Homo sapiens: one gene and its partners. The protein of the gene in region 1 binds, or shares a complex with, the protein of each later gene. Each region holds a gene or a part of one and is shown on either strand. Other genes may lie near its edges. The genes, in order: LAMTOR4, LAMTOR3, LAMTOR1 and FNIP1.

Region 1 (7,922 bases):
ACTGAGTCTCGCTCTATCATCCGGGCTGGAGTGCAGTAGTGCGATCTTGGCTCACTGCAACCTCTGTCTCCCAGGTTCAAGGCCTGAGCCTCCCGAGTAGCTGGGATTACAGGTGCCTGCCAATATGTGCAGCCAATTTTTGAATTTTTAGTAGAGACAGGATTTGGCCGCTATCGGGGGAAATTCACCCCCAATATTTCACATAGCTTCTTTTCTATATTCCCTAAGAGTCGGCCGGTCTGAGAAATAAAGGGACAGAGTACAAAAAAGAGAAATTTTAAAGCTGGGTGTCCAGGGAAGACATCACATGTCGGCAGGTTCCGTGATGACTAATAAAAACCAGCAAGTTTTTATTAGTGATTTTTTCAAAAGGGGAGGGAGTGTACGAATAGGGTGTGGGTCACAGAGATCACATGCTTCACAAGGTAATAAGATATCACAAGGTAAATGGAGGCAGGGCGAGATCACAGGACCACAAGACGGGACAAATTAAAATTGCTAATGAAGTTTCGGGCACGCATTGTCATTGATAACATCTTATCAGGAGACAGGTTTGAGCAGACAACTGGTCTGACCAAAATTTATTAGGCGGGAATTTCTTCGTCCTAATAAGCCTGGGAGCGCTACGGGAGACTGGGGCTTATTTCATCCCTACAGCTTCGACCATGAAAGACGGCCGCCCCACAAAGCGGCCATTTCAGAGGCCTACCCTCAGGGACACACTCTCTTTCTCAGGGATGCTCCTTGCTGAGAAAAAGAATTCAGCAATATTTCTCCCATTTGCTTTTGAAAGAAGAGAAATATGGCACTGTTCCACCCGGCTCACCGGCAGTCAGAGTTTAAGGTTATCTCTCTTGTTCCCTGAACATTGCTGTTATCCTGTTCTTTTTTCAAGGTGCCCAGATTTCATATTGTTCAAACACACATCCTCTACAAACAATTTGTGTTAACACAATCATCACAGGGTCCTGAGGTGACATACATCCTCCTCAGCTTACCAAAATGACGGGATTAAGAGATTAAAGACAGGCATAGGAAATCACAAGGGTATTGATTGGGGAAGTGATAAGCGTCCATGAAATCTTCACAATTTACATTCAGAGATTGCAGTAAAGACAGGCGTAAGAAATTATAAAAGTATTAATTTGGGGAACTAATAAATGTCCATGAAATCTTCACAATCCACGTTCTTCTGCCATGGCTTCAGCCAATCCCTCCGTTTGGGGTCCCTGACTTCCCACAACAGGCCACGTTGGCCAGGCTGGTCTCAAACTCCTGAGCTAAAAAATTAGCCGGGCGTGGTGGCAGACGCCTGTAGTCCCAACTACTCGGGAGGCTGAGGCAGGAGAATGATGTGAACCCGGGAGGAGGAGTTTGCAGTGAGCTGAGATCACGCCACTGCACTCTAGCCAGCCTGGGCGGGAAAAAAAAAAAAAAAAAAAGAGAGAGACAAACTCAATAGAAAAATGAGAAAAGAGTTGAACTGGGCCGGCATGGTGGCTCATGCCTGTAATCCCAGCACTTTGGGAGGCCGAGGTGGGTAGATCACTTAAGGTCAGGAGTTTGAGACCAGCCTGGCCAACATGGTCAACATGGTGAAACCCCCTTTCTACTAAAAACCCAAAAAAATTAGTCGTGCCTGGTGGTGCGTGCCTGTAATCCCAGCTACTCGGGAGGCTGAGGCAGGAGGATTGCTTGAACCTGGGAGGTGGAGGTTGCAGTGGGCCGAGATCGCACCACCGCTCTCTAGCCTGGGCAACAGAGGAAGACTATCTCAAAAAAAAAATAAATAAATAAGCCAGTTGCAGTGGCTCATGCCTGTAATCGTAGCACTTTGGGAGGCCGAGGCAGGTGGATTGCTCTGAGCTCAGGAGTTCAAGACCAGCCTGGGCAACACGGTGAAACCCCGTCTCTACTAAAAATACAAAAAAAAAAGCCGGGATGGCAACGTGCCCCTGTAGTCCCAGCTACTTGGGAGGCTGAGGCAAGGGAATTGCTTGAATCCAGGAGGCGGAGGTTGCAGTGAGCCAAGAGCGCACCATTGCACTCCAGCCTGGGCAACATAGCAAGACTCTGTCTCAAAAAAAAAAAAAAGTTGAACTGATACTTCACAAAAGATGATATCCCAAAAGCCAAACCTGTCTGAAAATGTGATCAACCTCATTAATATTTAGGTAAATGCAAATAAAAACTACAATGAGAAGCCATCGCATATCCAAAAACTTTACCCTAAAAGTGTGGCAATACTGGCTGGGCATGGTGGCTCAGGCCTGTAATCCCAACACTTTGGGAGGCTGATGCAGGCAGATCACGAGGTCAAGAGATCAAGACTATCCTGGCCAACATGGTGAAACCCATCTCTACTAAAAATACAAAAATTAGCTGGGTGTGGTGGTGCGCTCCTGTAGTCCCAGCTACTCGGGAGGCTGAGGCAGAAGAATTGCTTGAACCCGGGAACCAGGAGGTGGAGGTTGCAGTGAGCTGAGATTGCGCCACTGCACTCCAGCCTGGGCAACAGAACAAGACTGTCTCAAAAAAAAAACAAAAAACAAAAAGTGTGGCAATACCATGTGTTAATGGAGCTGGAGATAACTGGGAACTCTGACACATTGCTAGAGGAGTGTGAGTTGGTCCAACCAGTTTGATTTGCAGACCATAGATAAAAAAGATAGGAAACTCTCTGATTCATTTTATCTGGCAACCTGCTCTTTCTACCAAAAGCAGATAAAGAATATACCAAAAAGAAACTACAGCCCAATCTCATTTATCATAATAGATTTTAAAAATTCTAAATAAAGCAGTAAAACAAATGGGTAGTATAATTTGTTCCAGCAGATTTTATTCCAGAAACACAAAGATGGTTAAATATCAAGAATACTGCCACCATAATTTATTACATCAAAATCTTTTTTTTTTCTTTTGAGACGGAGTTTCATTCTTGTTGCCCAGGTTGGAGTGCAATGGCACAATCTCAGCTCATTGCAACCTTCGCCTCCTGGATTCAAGGATTCTCCTGCCTCAGCCTCCCCAGTAGCTGGGATTACAGGCATGCACCACCACACCCACCTAGTTTTTTTTTTTTTTGTTTGTTTGTTTTGTATTTTTAGTAGTGATGAGGTTTCACCATGTTGGCCAGGCAGGTCTCGAACTCCTGACTTCAGGTGATCCACCCGCCTTGGTCTCCCAAAGTGCTGGGATTACAGGTGTGAGCTACCACGCCCAGCCTTGAAATTGCTGTTTCTAACAAGTCTTAAAAGACACCCAGACTTTAACAATTGTTATTATATTCAGATTTTTTTGTTGCTTTTTGAGACAATCTTGCTCTTTTACCCAGTCTTGAGTGCAGTAGCATGATCATGGCTCACTGCAGCCTCAACCTCCTGGGCTCAAGCGATTCTCCCACCTCAGCCTCCCGGGTAGCTGGGACTACATGTGCAGTATCATGCCTGGTTAATTTTTAAATTTTTAGAGATGGGGTCTTGCTATGTTGCCCAGGCTTCTAGAATCATTCTTCATATTATTTCACTAACACAGCCTCCACCACATTAATATGGCAACAGGTTTAGAAATTATTTAAAACAAAAATTTCTAATGTTTACATATATTGTGTGATGTGTGTGTGTGTGTGTGTGTGTGTGTGTGTGTGTATCATTCCAAGGTACTGTTTCTAATTTTTTCCTGTAGGGAATGAATATTCAGTATTGCAGCTGCATTGGCTAGCTGGGGATTCTATTTACCACCACATTGTCCCGGACTGAATCTGGGGACAAAAAAACCACTTCGGGAACAAATTCTTGTCTTCAACAAAGAGCTGTCTTGAGTAGGCACAAAAGTAGCATTTGAGGGCCGGACGCGGTGGCTCAAGCCTGTAATCCCAGCACTTTGGGAGGCCGAGGCGGGCGGATCACGAGGTCAGGAGTTTGAGACCAGCCTGGCCAATATGGTGAAACCCTATCTCTACTAAAAACACAAAAATAGCCGGGCGTGGTGGTGGGCGCCTGTAATCCCAGCTACTCGCGAGGCTGAGGCAGGAGAATTGCTTGAACACGGGAGGCGGAAGTTGTATTGAGCCAGAGATCGCGCCATTGCACTGCAACCTGGGCGACCGAGTGAGACTCCGACTCAAAAAAAAAAAAAAGTAGCATTTGAGTACCTTTTTTTTCCTTTTCTTTTCTTTTTTTTTTAGAGGAAGGGCACCCAGGCTGGAGTGCAGTGGCACCATAATAGCTCACTGCACTCTGCAACTGCTGAGCTCAAGAGATTCTCCTCCATCAGCCTCCCTAGTAGCTGGAATTACTGGCGTGAGGCACCATGCCCGGCTTATTTTCTTATTTTTTTGTAGAGGTGGTTGGAGCGGGGGGACTGGGGAGGGTCTCGCTATGTTGCTCAGGCTCGTCTCGAACTCTTGCCCTGAAATGATCCGTCCTCGGCCTCGCAAAGCGCTGAGATTACAGGCGTGAGCCACGGCGCCCAGCCTTGAATAGTTTTTCACATGCATTGCACGTTATTTCCTTTTATTCTCTAGTTTTTGGGTCCAGTCTTAAACCTGGGAAGGGATTCATTTGGGGGGGTCACACCAGCGGGCATCCTGGCTCAGGCGGAACTCTGGCTCCAGACAGTGCGCCCAGGACCAAACGGTCAACCCCGGCCTACTCCCGCCCCTCCCAGATCCTCCCCTCCTCGGACGCTCCCGCGTCTTCCTCTCGCTCAGGCACTGAGGGGCGGGGAGATGGGTGTTAAAGAGGGGATATCACCAATCAACGTGCGCCTCCGGGAAACAGCGCTTCGCACTGGCTGGTTGGGTCTGACGACGTGGCCACTGTCCAATCCTCATGCTAGAGGCGGGGCTAAAGGCCAGTGGCGCAAGCAGAAGGAGGAGCGCAGCGGCTGCAAGCACGTGACCGGGGCCTGAAGCCGGAAGCTACCTATCTGGTAGGGAGCTCCCCCAGCACCGAAGACTGCGATGGTGAGTGAGGACGCATGCGCGAGAGGACCCGCCGGGGGTTCAGCGTCTCTGCTCCCCAGTCTGTGTGGTTTCCCCCTGGTGGGCCTGCGCTCCACCCTCACCTCCTATCCGCTCGGGGAGGAAGAGGGGATGGAAATGGGAGGGATGGCGACGAGAATGCTGGGGAGGGGTCTGTGGGAGGGTGTTCTGGGGCTGCGGGTAGTCTGCAGGTCGGGCGGAGACGAAGGGAGGTGAAGAGAGGGTCTGGGGGCAGGGGCCAGTGGGGCAGCAAAGGCCCCTTGGGGTAGCAAAGGTGGGATGTGGAAGGCCAGGGGAGCCCGGGGGCGAGAGTGGGGGCAGATGGAGGCTCGGGAAGATCAGTATTGAGGACCATGTAGGGGGGAGGGGGCCGGGAAGGGACCTGGCTGGGGAATGAGAAAACCTGGGGCCATCGTCAACCCAGAGACTTGGGTTTGCAGGTGAAGGGTATCGGGCCGTCCATCCCTCTAGCATGCTTCTCACGACTTGCATCTTTACCCACTAGACTTCTGCGCTGACCCAGGGGCTGGAGCGAATCCCAGACCAGCTCGGCTACCTGGTACTGAGTGAAGGTGCAGTGCTGGCGGTGCGTTCTGGGAAAGGGAGGGGGTCCCTTAGTGCACACAGCCCGGTAACCCCTTCTAATATTGGCCCTTCTTTTCTCGGCTTTTATCTGGTTTCCTGCCTGGCATCTATTAGGTTGGTACAAAAGTATTTGCAGTTTTTGCAATTACTTTCAGTAATCAGTCTGTGGAATCTTAGTCTCCTAACGGCTGCGATTTATTTATTTATAGTTTTTGAGACTGAGTTTCGTTCTTGTTGCCCAAGCTGGAGTGCAGTGGTGCGACCTCGGCTCACTGCAACCTCCGCCTCCGGGGTTCAAGCGATTCTCCTGCCTCAGCCTCCCGAGTAGCTGGGATTATAGGCACGTGCCACCATGCTCTGCTAATTTTTTGTATTTTTAGTAGAAACGGGGTTTCACCGTGTTAGCCAGGCTGGTCTCAAACTCCTGACCTCAGGTGATCCACCTGCCTCAGCCTCCCAAAGTGCTGGGATTACAGGCGTGAGCCAACATGCCTGGCCTTTATTTGGTATTTCTTAAAAAGGCATTTGTATTTTGTTCCATAGTACTGTATGGTGTTAGGTCTCTAGATTACAGGCGTGAGCCACCACGTCTGGCCTTTATTTGGTATTTCTTAAAGAGGCATTTGTATTTTGTTCCATAGTACTGTATAGTGTTAAGTCTCCAGATGTTTTTGACTTAGGTAGAGACAAAGCTTAAGGTTAAGGGTTGAAAACAATACAGGTGGTAAAGACTATTGAGGGAATCCAGGATATTAAAAATTCAACATGTTATGACAAGGTAACTAACTTTCCGGGAGGTAGGAATTCAGCCCACCTTAAAGGAGAGTATTTACAGTGGGGGAGGACTTATTTGCAGGTGTGTGGCACTAACCTATCTGAACTGATGGTAAGTTTATGCTGAAAAGATTTGGGAAGGTTTGAGGGAAGAGAGGAGGATATGGTCAGGGAGGATGTAATTGTGAAGGATCTTCAAGGCCAGGTTAACACACTTGAACTTATTCTTGAAGGTAATACAGTTTGAAAGGTTTTTTAAAACAGAAACAAGACCCAGTGAGGTGGTTGAGCAATATTGTTGTTAGTGATGTGAAGATGGGCAGAAGGAGGCGTCATTAAGAGATGAGACTGGGCTGGGCGTGGTGGTTCATGCCTGTAATTCTAGCACTTTGGGAGGCCAAGGCGGGCGGATCACGAGGTCAGGAGATCGAGACCATCCTGGCCAACACGGTGAAACCCCGTCTGTACTAAAAATACAAAAACAAAATTAGCCAGGCCTGGTGGCGGGCACTTGTAGTCCCAGCTACTCGGGAAGCTGAGGCAGTAGAATGGCGTGAACCTGGAAGGTGGAGGTTGCAGTTAGCCGAGATCACACCACTGTACTCCAGCCTGGGCGACAGAGCAAGACTCCGTCTCAAAAAAAACAAAAAAAAAAAGAGATGAGACTGGGCAAGTGGTGGTAAGAAGGAGGAGCAAGGAGAGAAGAGTTTTGTTTTTGTTTTTTTTTGTTTTTGTTTTTTGAGACAGAGTCTCGCTCTGTGGCCCAGGCTGGAGTGCAGTGGCATGATCTCAGCTCACTGCAACCTCCGTCTTCCGGGTTCAAGTGATTTTCCTGCCTCAGCCTCCTGATTAGCTAGGATTACAGGTGTGCACCACCATGCCCAGCTAATTTTTGTATTTTTAGTAGAGAGAGGGTTTCACCATGTTGGCCGGGCTGGTCTCGAACTCCTGACCTCATGATTTGCCCGCCTCAGCCTCCCACCCAAAGTGCTGGGATTACAGGCATAAGCCACTGCACCCGGCCTGTTTTTTTGTTTTTGTTTTTGTTTTTTTTGAGACGGAGTCTCACTCTGTCACCCAGGCTGGAGTGCAGTGGTGCAGTCTCCCCTCACTGCAAGCTCCGCCTCCCGGGTTCACGCCATTCTCCTGCCTCAGCCTCCCTAGTAGCTGGGACTACAGGCGCCCGCCACCATGCCCGGCTACTTTTTTGTATTTTTAGTAGAGATGGGGTTTCACCATGTTAGCCAGGATGGTCTGGATCTCCTGACCTCGTGATCCGCCTACCTCGGCCTCCCAAAGTGCTGGGATTACAGGTGTGAGCCACAGCACCCCGTCCTGTTTTTTTGTTTGTTTGTTTTTTTTTAAGATAGAGTCTCGCCGTCACTCAGGCTGGAGTGCAGTGGTAACGATCACATCTCATTGTAGCCTTGAACTCCTGGGCCCAAGCAATCCTCCCGCCTCAGCATCCCAAGTAACTAGAACTACAGGCAAGCACCACCACGCCCAGCCATTAAAAAAAAAAAAAAAATGTGTGGAGACAGGGGCCTTGCTATGTTGCCCAGGCTGGTCTCAAACTCCT
Region 2 (6,617 bases), on another chromosome or scaffold:
TCAACTATTTATTAAGTCCTTACAATGTAATTGATATTCTGTTGGGCTTTAGAGATAAAAAGATGAAGATATGGTTTCACCTTAAAAACTTTCCAGGCCAAATGGTATTAATGTCTCTAAGAGATCATCACTAATTCTGTTTTATGGAAATATTCACTGAAATATAAAGTTCCTTTCTGTTTCATAATATAATACCATAATGTTGGGCTAAAACATTGATGATTTTAAAGTTTTTGAAAGATTAAGACATTTCAGTTTAGTTATACTACCTTTTCATAATGCAACATATTATTTGGCTCTTATTTTCTTTTTAGGTGGTTCAATTTAATCGTTTACCTTTGGTGGTGAGTTTCATAGCCAGCAGCAGTGCCAATACAGGTGTGTTTAATGACCTTAAATATCACTTTAATCCTTAATTTTAAAAAATTAATTTAATTACCATACCTTAATTTAAGAGGAATAGTAGATTTAGAGCCAAAAATCTTGAACTTGTGGCCCAGTTTCACTGTCTTTTTTCCATGTCTTGGGAAAAGTGATTTCTCTGAATCCTGGTTTCCATATCTGTATAATGGAGATAATATATGCTTTCTCCATCTTACAATGTTATTTTCTAGTTCAAATGAGACAGTGTATGGGTAAGTGATTTTTTTTTTTTTTTTTTGGAGACAGGAAAATTAAATGTTATCTGAGTGCTACATCTTGCTCCCATTACAGCAGTTTAAGAAAACAAGGTGAAGATAACCCAACAAAACGCATTAAAATGATCGATGAGTTACAGACCAATCTATTAAATTAGAATTTTTTAAATTTTACCTAATGGGGAAAATGAATGTGATTGAGAATTTAAAGAGCATGAATAGGATGAACATAGTCTCACTCTTCTTGAGAACTGAAGAATTTGAGAACAAATGCTAGGAAGCTGTACCCTTTATAGAGAATAGTAAAATTCCATTGTATCCAATACCTTCACTGGATATTTATGTGTAAAATAATGACTATTCACTTGGTTGTAATTTTTTTACTTCATTTTATATAAAGTAGGATTTTTATTAAAAGGTCTGTCTCCTTTAGATTTGATTGCTGTTGAGAATTGTAATATATTTTTTTCTATTTGTTTTTTCTTCCAAACTGAGCAAGTTCTTCTAGCTATGTCACTGAAGCCTGTTCTTAGATACCTCATCTTTAGAATGAGAGGTTTAGATTTGATGATCTATTAGATCTCTTCCATTTCAAAACATTTTAGGAATCTGTAAAATACTGTATGTAAAAACACTTTCTGAATTATATAGGATAGTAATGGTGTTAAGATTTTAAGTATATTTAGGAAATATACTAAATCTGAGTTTTGATAAATCACCTATCATCACATACTAAGTCACCAGTTGTTATATACTATGATAATGTACAGAACAATATTTTAGTACTTGGACCCTTTCCTTGAGAGTTCAGATGCTTTTTATATTCTATAAGACAGAGAAAGATCTTTATTTGTTTGAACATAAAACAGGCTCTGTTTGAGGCAGATAGCCTTTCACTCTAGTAAACTAAGGAGAAGCAAGATATGCTTATTTCTAGATGTTTATCTCCCAGGTTCATCATTGAACTCCAGTGTGTTTTGTACTCTACCATTTATTTTTAAAATATTTTTTCATTTGAAATATTTATTTATGTCTTAGCTTTGTCAAATTTATAAAAATAAATTTCTGATTTTCTTTGTTCAATATAGAAGCACCTATCTTTTGATATAATCTGTTAAAATTTGCTTAGAGACAAAAGTATGCTTTATTTAGTAAAAATCATATGTATTATTTCTGAGTCAAGGCAAATTTTGAAGCAGTAAGGTATAAATTAAGATTTTCCTTTCAAAACTCTTAACAAATTATAGTGCATATAATTTATTCTGTATTTCCTAATATATAAGTATTTTTCACTCATTCACTTTAGTAATAGATGCTGAAAATAAACTTATTAATGACTACAAAGTTTTTGGTTGCTTTATTTAGGGTTATAGTACAGGTTGAACATCCCTAATCCAAAAATTTGAAATCCAAAACATTCTAAAGTCTGAAACTTTCTGAGCACTAATATGGCATTCAAAGAAAATGCTCACTGGAGCATTTCATATTTGAGATTTTTGGGTTAGGGATGCTCAAATAGTAAGTATTGTACAAATATTCCAGAATTCAAAACACTTCTGATACCCAGCATTTTGGATAAGGGATATTCAACCTGTATTTTGTTTCAGTCATGGGAAATAAACTATGTTCTGATTTACTTTTGGTAACTATGTATTTTGGACATAAGGAAATCTGAGTTTCAGGCTTTGAGGAACATTTTTCTAACATGTAATTTTCTTAATCTCTTTATTTTAGGACTAATTGTCAGCCTAGAAAAGGAACTTGCTCCATTGTTTGAAGAACTGAGACAAGTTGTGGAAGTTTCTTAATCTGACAGTGGTTTCAGTGTGTACCTTATCTTCATTATAACAACACAATATCAATCCAGCAATCTTTAGACTACAATAATACTTTTATCCATGTGCTCAAGAAAGGGCCCCTTTTTCCAACTTATACTAAAGAGCTAGCATATAGATGTAATTTATAGATAGATCAGTTGCTATATTTTCTGGTGTAGGGTCTTTCTTATTTAGTGAGATCTAGGGATACCACAGAAATGGTTCAGTCTATCACAGCTCCCATGGAGTTAGTCTGGTCACCAGATATGGATGAGAGATTCTATTCAGTGGATCAGAATCAAACTGGTACATTGATCCACTTGAGCCGTTAAGTGCTGCCAATTGTACAATATGCCCAGGCTTGCAGAATAAAGCCAACTTTTTATTGTGAATAATAATAAGGACATATTTTTCTTCAGATTATGTTTTATTTCTTTGCATTGAGTGAGGAACATAAAATGGCTTGGTAAAAGTAATAAAATCAGTACAATCACTAACTTTCCTTTGTACATATTATTTTGCAGTATAGATGAATATTACTAATCAGTTTGATTATTCTCAGAGGGTGCTGCTCTTTAATGAAAATGAAAATTATAGCTAATGTTTTTTCCTCAAACTCTGCTTTCTGTAACCAATCAGTGTTTTAATGTTTGTGTGTTCTTCATAAAATTTAAATACAATTCGTTATTCTGTTTCCAATGTTAGTATGTATGTAAACATGATAGTACAGCCATTTTTTTCATATGTGAGTAAAAATAAAATAGTATTTTTAAAAATATAGTTTGAGCACTGTATAGGTCCTTTTTTTGTTCAGACTTTTTCCAAAAATCTAAACATAATTAATATACTCTTTCAGCCACATGAATAAATAATGAGTGTTTCTTGTAGGTATTGGTTTGGAGATTGTTTTACGGTAGTATGAACTGTTAACTGGAAAAGAAACCTGAGATTGCAGTCAGCCAAGATTGTGCCACTGCACCCCAGCCTGGGCAACAGAGACTCCGTCTCAAAAACAAAAAAGAAAAGAAACCAAGAAACCTCAGGCATGAACCTAATTTAATCTCCATGAAAGAGGTACTACAGTTCTAGAATATACCCTTTATGTTCAGGAATGCAGTCTATCATTCAGAGTTAATTTCTTTCTAGGCTCTTTGACAATCAGTTTTTCCCTGGATCAGTTCAGTACATATGCATTGAGCACCTGTGTGCCAGTCAGCCGAGCTATCACATTGCACAATTCTAAGAAGCACCATTCATGTCTCATCATATTTCTATGCTCTGGGAGTTGCCTTTCACATAGAATATGTGTGATTGTTATCCCTAGAATTGTGCAGTGAGGCAATTGGCTAGGTGCTGTGCTGCTTTTTCTTTCTTTCTTTTTTTTTTTAAGAGACAGAGTCTTGCTGTGTTGCCCAGTCTGGAGTGCAGTGGTGGCATGATCTTGCCTCACTGTAACCTCTGCCTCCTGGGTTCAAGCTGTTCTCATGCCCCATTCTCCCTTGTAGCTGGGATTACAGGCTTACACCATCGCACTTGGCAAATTTGTGTATTTTTAGTAGAGACAGGAATTCACCATGTTGGCCAGGCTGGTCTTGAACTCCTGACTTAAAGTGATCCACCTGCTTTGGCCTCCCAAAATGCTAGGATTATAGGTGTGAGCCACTGCACCGGGCCATGTGCTACTTTTTCTTCCTTCCATCCTTCCTCCCTTCTTCAGTGTAAATATGAGATTAATTTGTGATACCTTACTTTAAAGAACTTAGAGTTCAGTAAAGGAAGCAGGTATAGAAAGTGCTATGATAAAGCTATACATAGGATGGTATAGAACCACAGACTAGGGGCACTTAAAATGGGCAAGAAAATAGCCTTTGTAAATAAAATAGAGGCAAGAGATATAATGCTTTACCTGCAAAGAGCTATAAATACAGCCATGTACCATATAATGATGTTTCAGTTAGTGAAGGACCACATACGAGGGTGGTCAGAACAGCAGGCTATACCATATAGCCTAGGTGTGTAGTAGGCTATACCATATAGCCTAGGTGTGTAGTAGTAGGCTATACCATATAGCCTAGGTGTGTAGTAGTAGGCGATACCATATAGCCTAGGTGTGTAGTAGTAGGCTATACCATATAGCCTAGGTGTATAGTAGTAGGCTATACCATATAGCCTAGGTGTGTAGTAGGCTATACCATATAGCCTAGGTATGTAGTAGTAGGCTATACCATATAGCCTAGGTGTGTAGTAGTAGGCTATACCATCTGGGGTTCCTGTCAGTACAGTATGATGTTCACATAATGATGAAATCACCTAACAAAGCATGTCTCGAAATGTATCCACATTGTTACGTAACACATGACTGTAGTTAATTGTTACAATTGAAATACTAGATGTACTCATTGAAATCCAGAATTCCCATTATCTGGATTATTTAATATCGTTCAGGAAATTTTTGCCAGTGCAATGGTGCATGAAACAATGTCTTTTAGAAATGAGGTGGCCAGATTTCTATTTGCAGATAATAATTGTATATCTAAAAATCCTAGAAAAAGAAATGATAACAAATGGAGCTACTTAACCTTTACATGTTGAATGCTGCCACTGTTAAAATTTCTGAGGGGGTATAATAGATAAACTATCCCATAGTTCATCTGGAAAAATAAGGTGGTGAAAATTGCTAAGAAATTTTTGAAAGGGTAATGTAAACCTAGATTAACTGTTTTTGAAAGGTAGTACAGAACTGAATGCACAACTAGATATCAATGGTATGTACTCACCCAGAAAAAAGACTTCAGTACATACATGTGAGGGCTTAAAACATTGTTATAAAGACGGGATCACAATGGGAAAAGGATTATTCAATAAGTAGGGCAGGCATTCTCTATGCCTGCTAGGGAAGTGTGACTTGTTATACTCTTTATGTACAGCAATTGGCAGTCTGTGAAACTTTTAAATTCATATACATAACCTTTTGCCCTGCAATTCCACTTCTAGAAATTTATCCTACCAAACAAAGCACATAGATGTGCAAAAGTATGTATTTACAAGTATATTCTTTGCAACTTGGTAATGTCAAAGAATTGGAAGCAACCTAAATATCTGCCATAGGTAGGATAACCATATGCTTTGGCTTTTTGAACACTACCAGTTTATACCTGCTGTTCTTGGATAATTATTAATAGTGCTTTCATTCTCAATGTCTCACTTTAGATAATAAATTACAGAGGATTGGTGAAACTAATTTGCCCAATGGAAAAAGGAATGAAGAAGTGCTTTAGGTACTGAGATGAAAAGATCTCTAAGGCATAATAATGTTTATTGAGAAAAGCATGGTGTCAAACTGTATGGCATGCTACAATTGATGTATAAGAAGAAAAAATGTGTATGTATTCCTATTTGTTTGTATATGGTAGACTGTCTCTGAAGACATATATGGAAGAACCTGATCACATTGGTAGTCTCCAAGGAGCAGAACTAGATACCTGGGGGATAAGGATCCCAGGAGTGAGCCTTTTCATTGTAAACTTCATTGTACTTTGAGTTTTTAACTGTTCAAAAATAATAAAATTAGAAATAAAATATTTCAACAAACAATAAAATGGGATATTTGGGGAAGAAAGTTGTCTCAGGGCTCTCCAAAGAAGCAGAACCGGTTGGACATATGTGTATTTATTTCAAGGAAATGGCTTATACTATTGCGGGGACTGGCAAGTCTAACATCTGTTGGACGGGCCAGAAGACTGAAAAGTCTCAGGTAGGAGCTGAGGCTGCAGTTTCAGAGCAGAAGTTCGTCCTCTTGGAAACTTCAGTTTTGCTCTTAAAGCCTTTCAGTTGATTGGATGAGTCTCACCCACATTATGGAGGATTATCTCTTTTACTTAAATTTAAGGGATTATAAATGTTAAGTACATCTCCAGAATACATCCACAGCAGTACCTGGATTCATGTTTTAATAACTAGGCAATGTGTCCTAGCCAAGTTGATGCATAAAACTAACGTTCACAGTCCATTCCTAGTCAGCTTGGCACCTGTATGCATCTTTTTTGTTGTTTTTTGTTTTGTGAGACAGAGTCTCACTCTGTCACTTAGGCTTGAGTGCTGTGGCCTGATCTCAGCTCACTGCAACCTCTGCCTCCTGGGTTAAAGCGAGTCTCCTGCCTCA
Region 3 (7,094 bases), on another chromosome or scaffold:
CAACCACCCTATCTTTCAGATTTATGAAAGGTCTCTGTTAGAATTTGTAGTTTCATTCCCCTTTTATTGCTCATCAAATGTATTTCTGATCTTGGAATTGGATGAACTTTTATTTATTTATTTTTGAGACCAAGTCTTGCTGTGTTGCCCAGGCTGGAGTGCAGTAGCATGATCACGGCTCACTGCAGCCTTGACCACCCAGGCTCAGGCAATCCTCCCACCTCAGCATTTCCAGTAGCTGGAACCACAGTTACTCACCACCACACCCGGCTAATTTTTAAATTTTTTGTAGAAACGGGGGTCTTGCTTTGTTACCCAGGCTAGTCTCGAACTCCTGGGCTCAAGTGATCCTCCTGCTTTGGCCTCCCAAAGTGCTGGGATTACAGGCATGAGCCACCATGCCCAGCCAGTGAATTTCTTTTCTTTTCTTTTTCTTTTTTTTTTTTTTTTTGAGACAGGTTCTTGCTCTGTCACCCATGCTGGAGTGCAGTGGCACAATCACAGCTCACTGCAGCCTCAGCCTCCTGGGCTCAAGCAATCCTCCCACCTCAGCCTCCCAAGTAGCTGGGACCACAGGCATGTGCCACCATGCCTGGGTAATTTTTGTATTTTTTGTAGAGATGGGTTTTTGCCATGTTGCCCAAGCCGGTCTCAAACTCCTGAGCTCAAGCAATCTGCCCACCTCGGCCTCTCAAAGTGCTGGGATTACAGGCACCAGCCACCACACAGCCGAATTTCTTAAATAAGACCCTAAAAGCACTTATGCTGGGATTGAGATAAATCCAGGCAGACAGCTACCCTAAATGGTATGTGGAAGCCTCCATGGTGGAGAGGAAAGATGTGGAGACAGATAATTACAAAGCTATGGGTTATCTGCTGAGATGGTTATTCCACTGTGTATTATGGTTCCTTTGAGGCCAGCATTTGTGGCTCATTCATCTCTGTGGCCTCTACCCCTCTCCCTGGCACCTAGCACATTCCTAATACAAAAGAGGTGGCAATAAATGTTTGCTGAATAAATGACTTAGTCCAAGCTCCTCATTTCCAGATGAGAAAAAAAAGAGGCCCTAAAAGAGGATCAAGAACCTGCCCAATTCATCCAGTTAAGCAGCAACAGATCCCAAATATTCCTTCACTGTCTTGGGGGTACTTCTTGGAGCAGAAGGCTAGGGAACACTGACCTTTGACAGGCCCCATGTGGCTCAAGTACTCGCAGCGGCTGCTCCAGTGGTCCAGGGTGGTGAGGATGTGACCAGGGTCACCGGGCAGGGCATGGGTGAGCACGTAGCTGAAGGCCCGCTCCTCGATCCGCAGCCCTGACAGGCAGTCTCGGAGGCTTCGCAGCAAGACCGTGCGCACCAGCAATCGGAAGTAGTGCCGGTACCGCACCAGCAATGTTACCACCAGTGGCAGGAAGGCCAATGCAATGGCAGGGGACATGGTCCCTACCTGGGCCCTGGGGTGGAGGGAGGTAGGGAGGGAATCCCATACCCACAATTTGCCTATTTGTGTAGCTTTTGCCAGTAGCAATTATTATCCTTATATTTCACAAACCACGGCTCAGAAAGGCTAAGTCTTTTGTCCAGAGTCACAGAGCAGAACTGGGATTTGAATCCAGGTTAGTGTGATTCCAAGCCTGTGTACTTTCAAGGACTCTATACTGTCTACTTTCAGCACCCAGCCCCAAACCACCTCTTCCCGGTCCCAACCCCTGGTCCCATCTTCACATTGTTCCCCTGACTTGTTTCTCTTTATCCTTGAAGTCACCCCTTCTTCAGGACCCCTTTCACTAATTCACCTCTGGGATATCTTCCCCCACCCCTACCCTCTGCCTGCCTGGTCTCCTCTGACCACTGCTGTGTAGCAAAAGAGCATAGATTTGCAGTCAAAAACACCTTCACTATCACTGTGCCCTGCCTCAGTAAAATGCAATCAAAATACCCCATAGGGTGTTAGAGTGAGATGTCCTCTTTCCCACCCCAGGACTCTCCCTCTGCCTGCTCTTCCCTGAGGATGGGAGGAGTCTTTGATTCTTTAATAATTCTCCAGCCCCATCTCCTCTCCGCTGTATTCCCCTCTTCTCCTGTGCTGTCTCAGAATTCCCTTCACAAATGTGTACATACACATAACACACAGCACACATTTTCCCTCTACTCAGCTCTTCTCTCCAGGGACCTATGGGGAATGGGCCTCTCCTCCCATGTCCTGGACCATTCTCCTCCTCATCCAGATCTGACCTCCTTGCCGGCCTTCTTGCAAGGCCCCTGGTGATGGCGGGGAGTAAAAATGAAAGAGTGTATGGATGGGTGTGAATAGGTGAGTGATGCGGTGGGCTTGAACTGGTGAGCTTGGGAACCCACAATCCAGGGCCCTGCTTACCTGGGCTGGAGGACCAGAGCACAGGACAGGTCGGGGAGTCCAGGGCCTGCTGCGGGGGATAACCCTGAGGTAGGAGGCTGGAATGGCTTTCAATTATTCATGCTGAGGCTGCTGCTGTCACCTGAGACCTGCAGTTCAAGTTACCAGCCCCAGGGACGAGCTTGAGCTGCCTCCTACCCTTCAGGAACCTCAAAAGATTTACAGAACCTCAGGGTCTTGATTTGAGGGGTTATAAGAGGTATGAGATCTGGTGACTTCTCCAATACTTTGGATCAGAAGATGGGGCATGGGGTGAGCCAAGGTGATGGGGTGACTGTAACATGCTCATTGATATGCAAGTTTTCTGTAAGCAAGGCCATGCCTTGGGCTACAGGGAAGAGTCAGAACCTGTCACTGTGCTCCAGGAACTCCCAAGTTTGGTAGGTGAGACTGACCCAGGAACAGAGAATACAATATAGTGTGATCACTATTGGATGTTCCATGACTACAGGGACTTTGGCTGTTTTGTGAACTGCTGCATATCCAGATATAACAATGTGTGGCACATAGTAGACGCTCAGCAAATATTTGTTGATTCAATAAATGCATGAATTAACACTGGATGAGGATTAAGCATAGGGAGCTGGGCATGTCCAGAGAATGGAGTCAGAGAAGGTAATCAGGAGGACATTGTACTGAGTCTCGAAGACAGTAAAGACAGTAGGCAGACCAGGCTGCATGTACAAAGTCCAGTAGATCAATCAGGAAACTACATTATTTCTCTATGTCCAGTGAAACACATTGCTGACCCCTCCACCCCTCACCCCAGAACATGCAGTGGGAGAGGTGTCAGGCTCTTGTTATGTCAGACGGGTAATGTGCCAAAACAAGATTTGAGGGTGGCACATTTGATACATGCTGGTGAACACCCAATCACACGCTCATGAACAACAAATGGATCACTATACAATCTTGGACGGACTTGGACCTGTGTTCAGGGCCCAAGGGAAGACATGGAGCGGGGGTTAGGAAAAGAGAACTGATGGTCAGCTTTGTGCGTTCGATTACAATGGGTGCTGTTAAAAAAGGCAGAATTAAAGATAAAAGCCTGAAAGCAGAGAGGTCAGTGAGGTGGCTTCTATCTCCTCTACCAGGATTTATCTCCGCTGCGCGTCAGCATGTGAAGGTAGTATAAGGTCCCTTCTTCCTGTAAGTCGCAGATCCCCAGCCCAGGTGGAGAATACACCCTCTGTGTATTCACCCCCAGCCCAGCTGGGCGATACACCCTCTGTGTTCCCCGACTAGGTACTGGTCATCTGGATCATCTGTGTGTGTGCACCCAGACCGTACGATCTGGAGCATCAGGCCTGGATCCCAGTCGCCCCTCGCATGGCATTTAGAAGAGTATATCACAAGGGCATACGAGGGCATTTGGTACGAGTTCGCTCAATGGCCCAGAAAAGTGGCCTAGTGGCCACGAGAACGCATAACACAATTCACGATGGCCACTACTGCCAGTTTAGAGACTGGAAAGATGAAGTCATGTGATCCGCCCCGCCCTTTCCCCGCATCACGTGCTTGCGTGTACGGTTACGCCTTCCCATTGGTTGACAACGATCACGCGCTAGCGGGCGGGACCGGAAGCCGGGGTATTGACTGAGGCGGCCAAGCGGCTCCGGGACAGGGGGTACGGGGGGTGGGGGCGGGTGGTTGCCTGCGGGAGGCCGCCGCGGGTCATGTGACCGGAAGGGCTCCTCACGGACGCCGTCCCTCCTCGGCGCGGCCTGAGCGCCCGGCCCGACCCCGGCCATGGGGTGCTGCTACAGCAGCGAGAACGAGGACTCGGACCAGGTGCGGCCGCGGCAGGCGGGGCTCGGGAATGAGGGCTAAGACACTGGGGCATGGGGCCCAGAAAGAAACCTGCGGAGGACGGGCAGCCGGACTGCAGGGCTCACTGAATACGGAGGCCTGGAGGGGACAGATTACAGAGGAGACGCCAAGCCGGGCTCCTACCCCTGTTAAAGCCCCAGATTTCTACACAGTCCCCGCCTCGGGGTGTGCAGGCAGCCGCCTGTCCGGCTCGCTCCCACCACTTCCGTTTGCTCCTACCTTCAAAACTTTTCAGATTCAAGGATCCTCAGTCTAGGTCCCCGGGAAACACTCCCTTCCCCAGCTTCCTGTGTCTTCTGTGTATTAGTGGGCTTTGCGAATCCATTTTAGGGGTGGGTAAGCTGAGGCCCTGAGTTAGTCTGTCCTGAGATGAATCAGGAATTCGTGTATCGTCTTAGTCCCTGGGGTTGCAGAAGGAAGGTCGCTGCTAGTCTAGGGCCAGGGGACGACTCTGGAAGTTGGTGGCCTTTGAATTGGCCAATGAAGGATTTAATCGATACAGTGAGGACATCGGGACATGTGGGAAATTGTCTGGGAAGCAACAAAGAGGATTTAGCTTTGGCTAGATTGTGGGAAAAGAGAAATGGAGCGGGAAGTTCATTTGGTTCTGAGTTTGGCTTGCCTCAGTGCAGTCTGCCTGGGGCCTGAGGGTTCCTTTAGCTGGAGACATGCCTATTCTGAGAATTTGGCTGTAGATCTGATACCTTTGGAGAAAGGGTTAGGCTGGGGAGACCTGTACAGTTTTAAATTCTCCCTCTTCCTCTTAGTGCATTCTCACTTCTCCCCACACTCTAATCCCTGCCCTGCCTGGCCTGACATTCAAGGATGAAGTCTCAAGTTGCTGTCTACTCTCCTTTTTTGATCGTCTCTAAGCCCGGATTCTACATTTGAACATATAGTAGACCTGAGAGAGTAGAAAGGTTTCAGGTAGCTCACGGTCTAATGGGGAAGATGGTCACAAAAATAGATTATATCACTGGTACTTGGGAAGTAGTTCGTTCTTCAGTGAACGTATTTTGGATTAAGGGCTTAAGCCTAGGAAAATGTCGTTTGTATGGGAAGCAAGGGTGGCTTCTGGTTCTCAATTCTCCATACACCCAATGAACACATATTTCCTTTGCCCTGTGTTAGGCATGTGTTGTGCCTAATACCTCTCACTTCACTTCCACCTTTTTGAGAAAGAGACAACAATAACCCTGCCTACTGGGAGAGCTGTAGCCTAGTGGGAAATTGTCCCTTAAAGCATAATATGGACTCTTGCAGGGAATGAGTCAAGAAGGATTAATGCCGTATGAGAAAGGATACAAGCTTCTACTTGGAAGGGAGAGCTGGGCCTGCTGCTCTCCTGAATCTCTACCTTCTCCTTGGGGGGCTCTCATTTCTGTTCCTAACACCCAGAGAAGGTGCTTAATCACTGCTGGGTGATTTGAGGCCTCATGTAGCAAGGGCCATAACCATCCACCATCCCACAGTCCCTCTTTGAGTTCTTGGGCAGGCCCCTCTCCGACTCTCATCTCTGTCTCTTTATCATAATAAAAAATATACAACACGTTACAGTTTACAAAGGGCCTTCACAGTTATCTAATTTGACTCTTGCCAGACATCCGTCATATTAGTGTGGGTTATGTCTATTGAAAGGTGAGGAAGAAGTTCAGAGAAGCTAAGTGATTTGGCCAAGCTGAGAAGTGCTAGTGCCCAGGTGTTCTGACGCTAGGCCATGTACTTTATCCATGGGGCCAAGCTGTCTCAGCCATGCCCCTAGACCAGGTGGCCAGTCACGGGCAGGCTGCTATGTCTGTGCTAAGGTAGACAGTGAAACCCTGCCTCTTGGGTTACACTAATGCAGAGACAAACCTTGATGTGACAAACCTAACCCATGCTCCACTCGCACTTTGGGAGTGGGGTGATGTTTGTCTGCTCTGAAGTAGGTAGCATGGCCTCTTCTTTAAGTCTGGGTTTCAAGAAAATAACCTTGTTGTTCACTTGATCTTAGCTGAAGGCTGAGAAGTGATCAGCCAACCTTCTTCTTGAAGAACCCCTGATAGGGAAGAGACTACCCTGTCCTGCAGGAAGATCTGTCTGAAGTGGAGCTGGGAGGACAGACACATAGGAAGCTAACTTGGGCCTCATTATGGAGCCAGCTTTCCTTAGAAATACATAGTTTTATCTTTGGCAAACATTTTGTCTTTTTAGCTCTTTAATACTGAGCCTATGTATTTAGGGAGGAAGGGTGTCTGGGAGTTTATAGAGGTGATGGGGCAAAGCCCACAGCTTCTGTCTCTTGCTGTTGGGAACTGGATCAAATTGCCTGAGGACACTTGGGCAACCTAGCCTTGAGAAAGAAGAGTAAGGTGAAAAGGCTGGGCCTCCCTAAGCAGGGCAGGAGGAAGTAGCCCTCTACAAGGAGAGTTGTGGAGTTGTGGGCAGGGGAGCTGCGGCCTGCAGCAGGAAAGACTGAGGAACTGAGATAGGCCTGGAGGGGAGCATTGAGGAGTCTGGCACTGAAGGTTGGTGAGTCAGCATTAGCCAGGATGTCCCCCTGGGCCCATCCTTGGCTTTGTTCAGGGCACTCTTGCTCTTTATGGGTTGGATAGATACCCAGCAGGTCTGTTTTTCTCATTTACTGCTGATACAGCAAGCAAGGATTTGCAGCTGATGGTCTCAAGGCAGGGTCAAATCCAGAAATATTACAGTAGATAGAACAGGGGACTGAAAGAGGACAAGGAGGAAGACCAAACCAATGAGGAAGCTTGGTTTGGTCTTACATTAGTTCAGGGGTTGTGATTATCAGCACAGGCCAGCAGGAACAGGGCTGCTGAAAATTTACATGGGCTACTCAGGTGGTT
Region 4 (7,025 bases), on another chromosome or scaffold:
TAGCTGAAGACTTCAATACTTCATTCTCAATAATTGATGGCAGAAACAAACTGAAAATCAGCACGGACATAAAAGACTTAATTAAGACTATTATCTAAAGGTTATCTAACTTGACCTGATAGCTATAGAACATTTCAACAAAAGCAGAATATATATTCTTTTCAAGTGCCATAAAACAGTCTCAATAAATTTACAAGAGGTGAACAAAGTAGGTTCTCCAACCATAATGGAATTAAATTAGAAACCAACAGCAAAACAACTTTTGAGAATTCCATAAATATTTGTAAATTAAACAGCATACTTCTAAATAACTCATAAGTCAAAGAAATTACAAGCAAAATGTAAAAACATTTTGAAATGAATGAAACTGAAAATACAACAGATCGAAATTTGTCAGATTTGGCCAGGTGCGGTGGCTCACGCCTATAATCCCAGCACTTTGGGAGGCTGAGGTGGGTGGATCACCTGAGGTCGGAGTTCCAGACCAACCTGGCCAACATGGTGAAACCTCATCTCTACTAAAAATACAAAAATTAGGCAGGTGTGGTGGTGGGCACCTGTAATCCCAGCTACTCCAGAGGCTGAGGCAAGAGAATCACTTGAACCTGGGAGGCAGAAGTTACTGTAAGCTGAGATGGCACCACTGTACTCCAGCCTGGGTAACAGAGCTAGACTCTGTCTCAAGAAAAATGAAATAAAATAAAATAAGAACAAACAGGAAATATTTTAGGTTTGGGGGCTGAAAAGTCTCTGTCTCAATAACTCAACTCTGCTGTTAGGCATGAACATAGCCAGAAGCATATAAATGAATGACTGTGGTTGTGTTCTAATAAAACTTCATCTATAAAAAGCAGGACAATTTGGCCCACTGTCCATAGCTTGCTAATCCTTGATGTATATGGGCAAAAAATATATACAATTTAAGTGAAACCACGAATGAACTTCTCTTTGGAGAAGCCCTCACCATTTGAAAAACAAACAAACAAAAACACACATTACAAAATTCAGGAACAAAAGAGGGGACATCACTAGCAACCTTATAAAAACTAAAAGGATTGTAAGTGTATAATATAAACAACTTGATTCTAGTAAATTAGGCCACTTAAATGCAACTAATAAATTCCTAAAAGACAAAAATTACCAAAATGGACTCAGAAACAAATAGAAAATCTAAATGTATAAAAGGTGAAGAAATTAAATTAGCAATTTAAAATATTCTTATTCTTAAAAGCCTGGATGCAGATGGTTTCACTAGTGAGTTCTACCAAACGTTTAGAGAAAAAAAGTAGTACTAATCTTCTGGAAACTCTTCCAGAAAATAGAGGATGTGCCAATATTATCCTGATATCAGAGCTAGACAAAGACATCACAAGAAAACTAAAAAGCAATATTTCTCATGAATATAGACTCCAATGTCCATAATAAAATATTGGTAAATCAAATCCAGCAACACATAAAAAAAATTATATACCATGACAGAGTGGGAATTGCTTCCTAGGAATACAATGGTTGGTTTAACATCTAAAAATTAATTAATGAAATCCATGACATTAATAGTTTAAAGATGAAAAATGACACGACAATACAATCTCAATAGACATTGAGAAAAAGCATATGACAAAATCCCACACTCATTCATGATTAAGGGATGGACAAAAAAAACCAAACCGTCTCAAAACTAGGAATAAAAGAGAACTGCCTGTCTCTAAAAGAAGTATTCGGTTAAACAAAATAAAAATAAAAAGGGAACTTCTTCCATCTAATAAAGGGCATCACAAAAACCTTACAACTAACAACATACTTAATCATGAAAGATGCAATGTCTTTCCCCTAAGATCAGGAATAAGGCAACGATGTCCATGGTCACCACTTCCATGCAACATTGTATTGAAAATTCTAGCCAGTACAATGAGTCAAAAAAAAAAAAAAAAGTTGGGGGCAGCGGGGACAAAAGGCATCCAGATTGTTAAGAAAGATTTAAAACTATCTGTTCACTGATAACATGAGCCTGTGTGTAGAAAACCTTAGGGAACCTATACAGAAAAATGAATAGACTAATAAGAGTTTCAGAAAGACCAAAGGATATAAGATCAATACACAAAAGCCAACCCCACTTCTATATGTAAGCAATGAGTAATCTGAAAAGGAAATTAAGAAAATAATTCCATTCAAACTTAAGCACTTGCAAATTTTTGATACTATAAATAACCTAGTTGATGGACATCCATGAATACATAAAGTACTTTCTGTATTTCAGATATCCATGTGGATAGATTTCTGGAACTTTATTTGCTTTCACAGTGACAGATACAAAGATACGGGCACTGAATATAAAATGATGGATTCAGAGAACAATGATTGTGTTGTAAAAAGTATGACCAAAAATATAAGGCAATTTTGGGTTCTGCTGCTTAACAGAGTTTCTTCTAAATAAACTCAAAAACAGTGAAGGTCACTCACCTGCACAGCATGAGATAAATCTGACATCAGACACTGACGGAACCTCTCATCACTCCCAATTCCTTGAAGAACAAAGTCAGGCACATAAGATGAGCAGTAGCCACCCAGCAAGGACCTCCCGAAGTTGGCAATGTTGGGCTGAACAGCACTCACTTCGATTAACTTTGACCTGGAAGAAAAATGCCCCCAAAAGACATTTATTTAGTAATAAATATATTTAACCAGTAAAAAAAAAAAAAAGTGAATTCTACTTGTCCATATTTTACACTAGTCTGTATTAAAATCAAGTGTAAAATCATCCTTATATAATGGTAACAATCGTAAAAATTAAGAGTAAAATGGTAATAATAGTAAAATCAAGAGTAAAATCATCGTTATTTAAAAACTGGCTCAAGTGCTCTATCAGAAAATAAAATACTCCTTCTTATTCAGAGAAGAAGGTCTGATGAGCAACTGAGTAATGAAGTGAGGATCAATCTTTCCTAAGAGACTTTAAGAGAATTGTACCTTGTGTTTGTAGCACATTCTTAATACAATCAGATTATGAAAACAATCATCTAAAACAAAACAATTAAATGCCTCACAAGTCCAAAGCTAGGTATGTAATGTTTCTCAAGCATGAATATTCTCCTTGCATACTTGACCCAAAGTATACATTCTCTGTTTTCCTCTTAGTCTTGGCCAAATCTATTTCTAACAGCTATTCTAACATCTCAGGGATTAGTGCTCCCTAACTGCCAGGCTCAGCATATGTCCTTTGGGGGGCATAAGTCACTCCTAAATGGCTTGAAACCTTCTAAGCAGTAAGAAATCTTATACTTATCAACCAGATCCTTTAACTTTTATTTGAGGTCTTCATAAAACCTTTCCAGGGTGTTTCTGGAGCTTAGCCTTTACTCCTTCTTATGAGTTAAGAGAATATGAAAACAAGAGAGCTATCCAGAACAATGATCTCTTTTATACTAACCTTCAGAGAACAGCTAAAAAAGAGAATGGTACATATTTATATAGGGCCCATTATAGGTGAAAACTTCCTACTTACCCAGGAAAAGGTATCTCATCCTCTTCTGCCCAATCTTCTTGCTCTCCTCCATAATAACTGCTAACTTGTCTAGTCATATCATGACCTGTATCTTCACTTTCACTATCCCCAAGGGCACTGTCTGAACTTTCATTTCTTGGAATGTCCCATTCAGTTCCTACAGCAATTTTTTTATCTGAACTCTCTTTATCCCCATGGGGGACAAGAATGGAGAGTGTATCTCTTTGGTCCTGCTGAGGAAAGCAGGTTTTACATGAATCTTGGGGAACTGTTTCTATACATTTACAAAATTCATTGTTCTGCTTGTTATTTTTTGTACACAATATTTTTGAAAACTCTAACATACAGCAATGGTCTTTACTATCTGTACTTGTTTTAAATGGAACATCATCAATAGTCCTGGTTTCGATTGAATCATCATTAAAATATTCGTCGAATAAGCTCATGCTTTCTGGGTCTGAATGATTCCAACAGGGAAGTTCACAGGGCTCTTCAGAAACCATGTTCTGTGTATCAGACTCTCCAGATTGGTCCTTGGTTGTTTGTTTAGTTTCTTGATGCTGATCAATAGCCCCTCTTTCTTCCTTCAATGGTTTGGTGTGATGTCTGGTAATCTGATCCACCACTGCCTGACTTCGAAGCTCAGTATCTGAATCAGGTGACATAGAATCCCCAATCAGGAAAGTAACCTTTGTCTGGGCAGCCTCACAAGAAAATGAAGCAGGCACAATCTTATCTGGAGGTTTTTTTTCCACAACCATTCCTGTGGATCTCATTGCTTTGCCTGTGTGACTGTCTGAATCCAGCAACTTCTCACTCTGCCATGTTTCCTCTGTTGACTCTAAGCCTGACTCTGACAATGCACATTTGTCTACTGGAACAGATCCTGTGCAAACAACTGTCTCTAACTTGGCGTCAAAGCAAGTTCTTAATTTATCTCTGTACTGTTTAACATCAACAGCATTTTCTTCTTGGCAGTCAGAAGGAGAAATCATCTGGCACTCATCTGAAATTCCTAGCAGCTCCTTAGAGCTGTTTTGAATATCTTCTCTCTCTTGTTGTGAAATGTTCTCTACATTTTGCCCAAGGAGTGGATGACTGCAATATTTACAGTTACAATTGGGAGTTCTAATTTCTTCTGACTCTTTAAAGAGCAAACTGCTTTTGTTTCTATGCATTGTGACAAGGACATACTCTGATTCTTCTATTTCACCTTTCTCTAAAGTGGTAGTAATTACTGTGCCTGGCATAACGATGGCTTCATCTTCTCCATTTTCTAAAAGATGCGTTTCTTGAAGTTCAGAGCATCTTATAAAATAAGTAAGAAAATAAAGTAGCCTCTGGACCATGTCTTGTCGTTTGCCAACTACCACAGTCCTTGCTAACCGTACGGGAGAGCCAATAGCGCCATACAAGTCTCCTGTAATGGAAAAAATCAGTTATTGGACATGTCCTTTACTGACACAGCTAAGTAAGCTATTTTTAATGATCAGAAACCTACTTCTTTTACTGTATGAGTAATAGTTTAGGTTTTACTCGTTTTTTTGTTTTTTTTTTTTTTGAGACAGGGTCTCACACTGTAATCCTGGCTGGAGTGCAGTGGTACAATCATGGTTCACTGCAGCCTCAGCCTCCTAGGCTCAGGTGATCCTGCTACCTCAGCCTCCTGAGTAGCTGGGACTATAAGCGCGTGCCACCATGCCTGGCTAATTTTTTGTATTTTTTTTTTTTTGTAGAGACAGAGTTTTGCCATGTTTCCTAGGGTGGTCTTGAGCTCCTGGGCTCAAGCAATCCACTGGCCCTGGCCTCCCAAAGTGCTGGGATTACAGGCGTGAGCCACCATGCCTGGCCTCACTCTTAGTTCTTTAACAGATGAGTGACTATTCAAGGGAGGAAGATGAGATGAATAATCTTAACCAGAGAGAAAGGTGAATTTAAGGGTTTTCTGGTTTCCTCTTTAAACAAATGCTATGGTTCAGAAACCTCAAGCAAAGAGTCAGTTCTGAAACTCACATATCCCAAGAATATTCTCTAACCCAGGCTCCATGCAGAGCATTTTTACCTTGTTAGAGAAGTACTGCCTGAAGTACTATGTACACAAGGATTCTGTAGCTGTGTCCAATCAAGAAAAGACAAAGCACAATATCCACTGGCTTGCAAGGAGAGGAAAGGAGTAGTGGTAAAATGGAGCAAAGCTATAGTCGTCACACCACACACTTAACCATTCCTGATTTAAATCATATCTCTGGGGCCGGGCACAGTGGCTCACGCTTGTAATTCCAGCACTCTGAGAGGCCGAGATGGGTGGATCACTTGAGACCAGGAGTTCAAGACCAGCCTGGCCAAGATGGTAAAACCCTGTACCTACTAAAAATACAAAAACTAGCCAGGTGGTGTCGTGGGCACCTGTAGTCCCAGCTACTTGGGAGGCTGAGGCTGGAGAATTACTTGAACCCAGGAGGCAGAGGGTGCACTGAGCCGAGATGACACCACTGCACTCCAGCCTGGGCAACAAGAGCAAGACTCCGTCTCAAAAAAATAAAAATAATAAAAAATAAAAAGAAATAAAATAAAAAAGTAAGTCATATCTCTGAACTTTAACTGTTGTTCCTCTAGCCAGCACCCCACCCCACCAGCTCCCATGTTTGTAAAAGCCTATTTTCCCCTTCCATTCCCTAGAGGGTTGGGTACTCAGGATAGGCCAGAAAGGGCAGGAAGAGAGAGACTCATCCTTACTAAAAGGAAAAGAAAGGGCAACAAGTTCAGCCATGCAGTTCATTTTCACTTTTGAATCCATTCTAAACATGACTAGCCATTATGTTAAAAGCAGGGGAGGTGAGGGGGGCAGGACTAGAAATTAGCATTTCTATATTTATGCTATACTTCAAATTAAACCAGTAATTTCAGTGCCAAAACTATGGAGAATAGGGCTGGGCATGGTGGCTTACACATGTAATCCCAGCATTTGGGGAGGTGGAAGCAGGCTGATCACTTGAGCCCAGGAGTTCAAGACCAGCCTGGGCAACATGGCGAAACCCTTGTCTCTACAAAAAAATACAGAAAATTAGCTGGGCATGGTGGCGCGCACCTGTAATCCCAGCTACCTGAGAGGCTGAGGCGGAAGAATCACCTGAGCCCAGGAAGTTGAGGCTGCAGTGAGCTGTGATCGCACCACCACACTCCAGCCTGTGCAATAGCGTGAGACCCTGTCTCAAGAAAGAAAGAAAAAAAAAGGAGAATACAAAGCCATTAATTTCAACTTAATTCAATTTTTGAAGTTGTCAGTATACACATTTAAAATCCTCTATTTTTACTTTACAAAGCCCTCACACTTTTTAAAGGAACAAATATAAATAGGTCTCAAATAAATATAAGCTATAGATACTATTATGATAAATTTTCTCTTCTGGCTAACACACTGGCTCAAATATCACCATGCCACTGTTCTAAACTACTCCCATAATTCCCACAAATTACCAAGTAAGTTGAAATTGCTTTGGCATGGCAAGTGAGTCTTTCATGA

The links.
Region 2: LAMTOR4 (region 1) and LAMTOR3 share a complex: the UniProt entries of both Homo sapiens proteins name them as parts of the ragulator complex.
Region 3: LAMTOR4 (region 1) and LAMTOR1 share a complex: the UniProt entries of both Homo sapiens proteins name them as parts of the ragulator complex.
Region 4: LAMTOR4 (region 1) and FNIP1 share a complex: the UniProt entries of both Homo sapiens proteins name them as parts of the lysosomal folliculin complex.

Annotation. Positions count from the first base shown.
Region 1 is NC_000007.14:100,144,010-100,151,931, forward strand, and holds the start of LAMTOR4 (ragulator complex protein LAMTOR4), read left to right. Parts: upstream 1-4,908; 5' UTR 4,909-4,963; coding exon 4,964-4,966; coding exon of another isoform or gene 4,967-5,044; intron 5,045-5,489; coding exon 5,490-5,570; intron 5,571-7,922. UniProt on the Homo sapiens protein: As part of the Ragulator complex it is involved in amino acid sensing and activation of mTORC1, a signaling complex promoting cell growth in response to growth factors, energy levels, and amino acids.
Region 2 is NC_000004.12:99,877,823-99,884,439, reverse strand, and holds the end of LAMTOR3 (ragulator complex protein LAMTOR3), read left to right. Parts: intron 1-314; coding exon 315-378; intron 379-2,372; coding exon 2,373-2,446; 3' UTR 2,447-6,104; downstream 6,105-6,617. UniProt on the Homo sapiens protein: As part of the Ragulator complex it is involved in amino acid sensing and activation of mTORC1, a signaling complex promoting cell growth in response to growth factors, energy levels, and amino acids.
Region 3 is NC_000011.10:72,100,298-72,107,391, reverse strand, and holds the start of LAMTOR1 (ragulator complex protein LAMTOR1), read left to right. Parts: upstream 1-4,094; 5' UTR 4,095-4,167; coding exon 4,168-4,209; intron 4,210-7,094. Other genes in the region: ANAPC15 (anaphase-promoting complex subunit 15), read left to right, coding at 1-41; TOMT (transmembrane O-methyltransferase), read right to left, coding at 1,182-1,440; LRTOMT (transmembrane O-methyltransferase), read right to left, coding at 1,182-1,456, 2,380-2,428. UniProt on the Homo sapiens protein: Key component of the Ragulator complex, a multiprotein complex involved in amino acid sensing and activation of mTORC1, a signaling complex promoting cell growth in response to growth factors, energy levels, and amino acids.
Region 4 is NC_000005.10:131,668,003-131,675,027, forward strand, and holds part of FNIP1 (folliculin-interacting protein 1), read right to left. Parts: intron 4,923-7,025; coding exon 3,503-4,922; intron 2,630-3,502; coding exon 2,461-2,629; intron 1-2,460. UniProt on the Homo sapiens protein: Binding partner of the GTPase-activating protein FLCN: involved in the cellular response to amino acid availability by regulating the non-canonical mTORC1 signaling cascade controlling the MiT/TFE factors TFEB and TFE3.